Linked DNA regions of Homo sapiens. The protein of the gene in region 2 interacts with the protein of the main gene of each other region in a biochemical or structural test. Each region holds a gene or a part of one and is shown on either strand. Other genes may lie near its edges.

The links.
Region 1: the proteins of WWTR1 (region 2) and DVL3 interact in a test that uses a peptide from one of them, tested with the Homo sapiens proteins (one large-scale study listed by IntAct).

The regions. Positions count from the first base shown.
Region 1 is NC_000003.12:184,165,286-184,168,937, reverse strand, and holds part of DVL3 (segment polarity protein dishevelled homolog DVL-3), read right to left. Parts: intron 3,517-3,652; coding exon 3,447-3,516; intron 2,813-3,446; coding exon 2,673-2,812; intron 2,493-2,672; coding exon 2,416-2,492; intron 2,333-2,415; coding exon 2,265-2,332; intron 2,113-2,264; coding exon 1,963-2,112; intron 1,359-1,962; coding exon 1,227-1,358; intron 1,041-1,226; coding exon 873-1,040; intron 1-872. UniProt on the Homo sapiens protein: Involved in the signal transduction pathway mediated by multiple Wnt genes.
Region 2 is NC_000003.12:149,651,398-149,655,049, forward strand, and holds part of WWTR1 (WW domain-containing transcription regulator protein 1), read right to left. Parts: intron 577-3,652; exon of another isoform or gene 1-576. UniProt on the Homo sapiens protein: Transcriptional coactivator which acts as a downstream regulatory target in the Hippo signaling pathway that plays a pivotal role in organ size control and tumor suppression by restricting proliferation and promoting apoptosis.

The DNA.
Region 1 (3,652 bases), about 35 Mb from region 2:
AGCACTGTCTCACTCCACCAACATTACTCATCTCACGATCCTGGCGCCCCCGGGGAAATTATACATTCCTTAATGGCAAGGCTACTCCCACCAATGTTGGAACTACATTGAAGAGAATATAAGGGGCCACCAGGACTGAATACCTGCCTGGGACACCCTCTGCTCACACACTATCGGTACCAGGTCCCAGAGCTCCAAGAGAGCTACAACTGCCCTTGAGGCCACCGGCCCTATTAAGATGAGACATTCCTCCCAGCCCTAAGAAGAGCCAGCCCCAGCCTTCCAAGAGAGAAGTCAGGAGACAGGGCTCTGAGGCTGCCTGTGGAGCCTGCAGCCAAGCCATCAACCTGTCAAGAGGCCAGCAGCCAGCATGGGGAGTGGTGGTGGAGGAAAGCAGTGGTCTGTCAGCTGTTGCCCAGAGCTGGTGATGACGTGAGCCTCCAGGCTGTTTGTTTTGAGGGAATGACTGTGTGCTCCTCGGGGCTACCTAGGCCTCCAGTTCTTCCCTTTAAGCCTACAACACCCTAGCTGAGACCTTGACGAGTGAGAAGGAAAAGGCCTATTCTGGCAGTATCCTCCTGAGCTGGGCCTCTGGGAGGTTGTGAATATTGAGTAAGATGATGCTTTAGGAACAACCAACATGGTACCAGGCAGAGCAGGCACTTAGAAAATGCCAGGCCCAAGAGGGAGATGTGGGCCAGGTGAAGAGGCTAAACTGGACTCTTCTTCCACCATAGAACTCTCAGGCCTTGAATTGGGCCCCTGGCTCTGCTGTCCCCCAGTTTGGGTTCCCCAGAGTCTGCTGCCACTTCCCTGGCTACCTCCCCACTCCCAGCCAGGAGACAGGGCAAGAAGATGAGGGAGGCACATACTGCCGCAGAGGTCACCGAAGATGTAGTAGCACTGCTCGGAGAAGGTGATCTTGTTGACGGTATGGCGGATGAAGCCAGCTTTCAGCAGGTTGCTGGCATACTTGCGGGCCTCCCTCCGGTCCGTGAAGCCTTCCACATTGTGGTACAGCCAGTCCACCACATCTGAGCCTGGGGACAAGGCTGCCAGTTGATGGGGAGGCCCATCTGACTTGGACTCATCTGGCCTCACAGAAGCTATGAGGCTGGGGCTGGCTCCAGATCAAAGGAAGGGTCCAAGGCAAGTCCTGGGCCCTCCGGCCTGCCCTGCCCCATCACTCCCCACCCACCCTGCATCCCACCATGGGGCTCTCTCACCGATGAAAGCATTAGGGATGGTAATCTTGAGCCACATGCGGTCACGGACCTCCAACCCTGATTCAGGGGAGGCCATGGCTTTTACGATGGCAGCCATGTCACTGTGGATGGACAAGTGGAAGTCGTCTAGGCCTGGGGGTGGGAGGCAGAATGGTGAGGCAGAAAGGGGCTTTGGAGTTAGGTAAACAAGAGTTTGCATTCTAGCTCTACCATCTAGTAATTATGGGATCAATGCTGGGAAAATTACTGATTTCTTGGACACTCAGTTTCCCCTTCTGTAAAAAATGGGGATTTTAATATCTACTTTACAAGGCTATTTGAATAAAGGATTAAATAATGTAAATGCAGGTGCTTGGCCAGTGTACGATGTGCATGTGATGATAATCGAAATGGCTGCCGTTTACTGAATGCTTACTTTACACCACACATCGCAATGGTGCTTCACTTATATCCTCTCATTAAACCCACAGGAACCTGGTAAAGTTTATATCGTGAGTCCCATTTTGTAAGAGGAAACTGAGGCGCCCTGGGTGCTCATACAAGTTCAGAAGCAAACACTGTTTAGTGAGGGTTGGAGTGCCCGCTGTGGGGGAGTTGCAGTGTGGGGTTGCTGGAATGAGCCGAGCCCCATCTCCAGCCCTCTCTGATGCTCAAGCAAGAGTCTCCACATGGACCCTCATCAGTCCCCCCACCTGGCCCTGTCTGCTGGGCCCAGGAGACAGGGTGGGACACTCACGCTCTGTGTCAGGGATGGAACTGGTGATGGAGGAGCTGGTGGAGGTGATGGTGCTCAGGGAGGGGCTCATGCCGTATGCAGGGAAGGTGCCGGTCATGGCTGCAGTGTGGGAGACCCAGGCCGCAGGGTCAATGGGCCGGATGGGCTCGCCTGCAGGGAGGATGAGGAGTCATGGGCTACCCACCCCACCCACTGCTGGGCCCAACAGGATAGATATGGGGGTTCTGGGTGAGAGAAGAAAGGAGAGACAGTGCTCATGTATGTAAGCACCAGCTTTAGGACTGAGTCTCCCATCCACTTACTCCTGGGCAATGTGAAGCAACCACGTGGACTTGGGTCCCAGCACTTGGCTACAGTCAGGGTGATGGGCCTGAAAACAAGGGTGTCCTAGTGAAGGCAGGATGCGTATAGGCCAGACCAAGCCCCTTGCCCAGTGCCCCATTCCATCCATACCCCGGTTTGTGCACAATCTCCCGCAGTACCCGGACTGCATCGTCATTACTCATGTTCTCAAAGTTGATCTCGTTTACCTGGGAAAGGACCAGGAGTGGGATAAACAGCTGTGCTGGGGAGGATGAAAAGGGAACTCAACTTGGTAGGTCAGGGAGTCTTCCCCCAACCAAGAAGGGGCCTCTGAAGGAGCAGGGTACAGATGGTAGGACACCTCCCTGCCCTCTATCCACACCACCGCCTAGGATGGGCACTGATACCTGTAACAACATATCTCCTGGCTCGATGCGTCCATCAGCAGCCACGGCCCCACCCTTCATGATAGAGCCAATGTAGATGCCGCCGTCACCACGCTCGTTGCTTTGGCCCACAATGGAGATGCCCAAGAAGTTATATTTTTCTATAGAGAGTAATTTAAGACCTTAAGGGGGAGCAAGGTTCCTACCCGCATTCCCAGCCCATTAGAAAATGGAAAGGGACAGGAACTGAACTGACATTTGCTGATCCTGAATCAGGCACTGCACTCAGCATGCTCAAACATGCTTCCATGGAACCCTTGCTGGCTATAAGGTAGGGACTCAGTCCCATTTTACAGAGCAGGCAACTGAGGTTCAGTGAACTTAGAAGATGACTTTTCTAAGCCAGTAAGTGGCAGAGCCAGGAATCAAACTCAGATTTAAATCCCATAGTTGGGCTCCTTTTACTATATCCAGCTGTCTCATAAAGAGAGTACCTAGGGCAGAAATCGGAGAGCAAGGATGCAATGGCTGAGAGATGTGAAGGAGTGGGCACTCAGAAATCACTTCCTCCAGGAAGCCTTCCCTGATACCATTTTCTGCTTCCACAGCTCTCTGTGCTTATCTCTGTCATAGCCCTGATGGTGAGATACTAAAATGATCAGTTTATGTATCAGCTGATGTTTACGAAAGAGAGCTCCTTGAGGGCAGGGAACATATTCTACGCTCTCTGAACTCAAGTCTGCCCAGTGTCTGGCATATAGCAGGTGCTTGAGAGTGCTGTTTCCTCAGACTCACCCATGTTGAGAGTGACCGTGATGATGTTGAGTGACATGGTGGAGTCCGTGATGCTGCTGAAGGACGAGGACTGGAATAGACAGAGGCCCTGAGCAGCAGGTGGAGGTGGCAGGAATTCACTCCCACCTGACTCCTCCTCAAGGTGAGTCCCCGGTGCAGCCCCCAGCCCCAAGGTTCTCAACACTGCACTAGGGGGATGGGATCTA
Region 2 (3,652 bases):
GCTCTGTAGTGGGCTTAGTGAATAACCAGTTCAGAACGGCACAGAACGAGAAAGGAATCTCGGCATACAGCTTAGACAAAGAAGACTCGATAGGTTAGACAAGATTGAGAGCCTAGAAAACTTTTGAGATCATAATAATGGCAAATAATGCATGAACACATTAAAAGGCAATCAGAAATACTAGGGAAAAAATTTAAGAAAGTCATGGTCCAAATATGAAAAAACTAAAAGGTAACACAAATTTAAACAACTGATGAAGAGTGAGAAAACAAAAAATCCCATTTGACTTTGGGGCTAGATATCTCATCCTTTGATTGGCCCAGGAATCCTAAAACCAGACCCACAGTGCAAGTCTAAAATCCAATCCTGACACACAAGGCAATGAATCATTTCACAGAATTGTAGTCATGTAAATGTTGCCTATGGATTTTCTTTTTTTTTTTTTTTTTTGAGATGGAGTCTGGCTCTGTTGCCCAGGCTGGAGTGCAGTGGCGCGATCTCGGCTCACTGCAAGCTCCGCCTCCGGGGTTCACACCATTCTCCTGCCTCAGCCTCCTGAGTAGGACTACAGGCGCCCGCTGCCACGCCCGGCTAATTTTTTTTTTTTTTTTTTTTTTTGTATTTTTTAGTAGAGACGGGGTTTCACGGTGTTAGCCAGGATGATCTCCATCTCCTGACCTCGTGATCCGCCCGCCTCGGCCTCCCAAAGTGCTGGGATTACAGGCATGAGCCACTGCGCCCGGCCTTATGGATTTTCAACTTTAAGAATCATATACGAATAAGATGGTCAACTTTGGGGCAAAGCACAAATACAGGTTATGGGTTCAGGGCTTTGGCAATGTGGAAAGCAACATTGTCAAAAAGTGAACAGTAGAACTGGTAGCAATCCAAACATTACTGACATACAGCATAAGGAATCAAGAAATACTATCCAAAGTTGAAAAAGCCAGGTGTGGTGGCTCACACCTGTAATCCTAGTGCTTTAGGAAGCCGGTGGGAGGATTGCTTGAGGCCAGGAGTTTGAGACCAGCCTGGGCAGCATAGGAAACCCTGTCTCTACAAAAAAGTTAAATAAATTAGCCAAATATGGTGGTGCAAACCTATAGTCGTAGTTACTCAGGAAGCTGAGGTGGGAGGATCACTTGAGCCCAGGAATTTGAGGCTTCAGTGAGCTATGATTCCCACTGCACTCTAGCCTGGGTGACAGAGACAGACCCCATCTCAAAAAAAAAAAAAAAAAAAAAAAAAAAAAAAAAAAAAAAAAAAAAAAGATGATTATTTAAAAAAGGTGACCTAACAGACAAATTTAAAATATTATAAACATCAAACCTGGGAGAGAAAAAAGAAAACTAGCTTAAAGAGCTACATTCTCACTTTCATATCAGGTGCTAAAAGTTGATAAATCAAAACATGGTGGTAAAAGCACATTACTTAAGCTTAAGAAGGTAACAATCTAAGAATTAAATATGGGTACAGTTGAAAAAAATTAAAAGTTGCCCTCTGTGAGCCTTGAGGAGGTGAAGGAAACCATTGTTTTTCAACAAATGTCCTCCTGTATATTGGATTTGTTACCAAGTGCATGGATCACTTGGACAAAAATAATTTTCTGTCACACATTTGAGAAAAGGCAAAACACTAAAATTGTCACTAAAAATGAGACGTGGCAGCCAAATGTTATAGTCTGAATTGTATTTAAGAGGAGGATAAAATCTTTTTTCTTATAAAATCACGTTACTCAAATGAAAGATTTTTACAAGAATGTTTGCGAAAGAGTAAAGATGGGAAATTCTACTGAAGCTAGATAACTTTCTTCTTTATAATTCCCCATTTTCTGGTTTATGTATAGAAAGCATGTATTCTATTTATAATCAGAGACCTTTTAAAAATTTAATGTGATCAGTATTCAGTCAGTGTGCCAGGTTGCCCAACACCCCAGCCTGATTCATGAGATTGAGAGGACAGCAGGAATAATGAATGAACACAGTGGTTTTCAGAGGCTAGGTGTTTTAACATTCAATCTGCTTCACTGTTACTCTAATTTTTAAAAACTTTTTATTTAGAGATGGGGTGGGGGTGGTAGTGGCTGCAGGTGGGCACCACCATGCCCTAGTCATTGTTACTCTAAAGGAATATCTGAATACCACAGGACACCTGAACACCACAGGAAAGCTGTGAATGCTCAGGAAAGGTGCCTTCAGGAGGTTGCAGAAAGTGATTACATCATATACCTAGGAATAATCTTACCTGAGAAAATGACAAAAGGCTTTTTTAAAGCTTCTTAGATGTCCAGGCTCTGTTTCCCATTAAGTTCATTGTTTAGCTAAGGAAGTGACATGGGGGAAAGGTGTCGGTGGGGAAAAAGGAAAACTGTTGCCTAAGTAGACAGCAACAGATTAGAGGTCCAGTCCAGGGTCCACCATTAAATAACCACATGACTTTCCCAAATTCCTATCATCACCCTTCCGTGGCCTCAATTTTCTAGTCAAAAACTAAACTAAACAAAATTGACCCTTGTCATTCTAAAATCCTTTGATTTCCAACTTATAAAGCTCTCAACTCCCAACAGAGTCAAGAAAAAGATTCTTCTTCTGGCTGGGCATGGTAGCTCATGCCTGTAATCCAAGCACTTTGGGAGGCCAAGGCAGGAGAATCACTTGAGTACAGGAGTTTGAGACTAGCCTAGGCAACATAGTGAAACCCCATCTCTACCCCAGCCAAAAATAAAAAAATTAAAAAAAAAAATGTATCTGCTAGCCTCAGCCCTATTTCATAGATGGCAAGTAAAGTAATAAACAGACATAATGAAAAGTAACTCCAAGTGAGTCACCATCATTTTTCAAGCTTCTACTTAATCCACTGAAATACACTGCCTTTTGAGGCTGTGTAACAAAGTGTATGACATTTACCTAATTCCAACTTTAAACAAAACTCTACAAGAAATTCAGAGAACTCTTGGCAGATTGCTTATCCTTAAAGACAATAGTCACTGACAAATTCTTAACCTCTCTTAGTCACTTGGCCAAAATACTTCCAGGGATAGCATCAGAGCAGGCCAGCCTACTACTTACACATTTTTTTCAGCTGTCATTTTCATTGACTACCCAAAGTGAAATGAAGATGCACTCTGCTTTGGATTGGAGAGTGGTTGTGGTTGGGGGGATGGGCAGAGAGATCACAGCAACTTTCTCTAAATCCAAGGCTAACTTCCACTTTTGCCCTTGTTCACAGGCAGTTCTGAGCTACTCCAATCATTCAAAACACAATGTATAAAGGAATTTTTTTGTTTTGCTTTTGTTTCAGGGTCTTTTTCGTCTAGTTTTCCTCAGATATTAGGCAAGCCTAGCTCCTATTTCATATTTTTAATAATCACAGTTATACTGATCATATACCATACGTATGTGTGTATATATTCATAAACACAGTTTAGAAATCATGTAGGGCTGGGGCCAGGCGTGGTGGCTCACACCTGTAATTCCAGCACTTTGGGAGGCCGAGGCGGGCAGATCACGAGGTCAGGAGATAGAGACCATCCTGGCTAACATGTTGAAACCCCGTCTCTACTAAAAAAAATACAAAAAAGTAGCCGGGCTTGGTGGCGGGTGCCTGTAGTCCCAGCTACTCGGGAGGCTGAGGCAGGAGAATGGCGTGAACC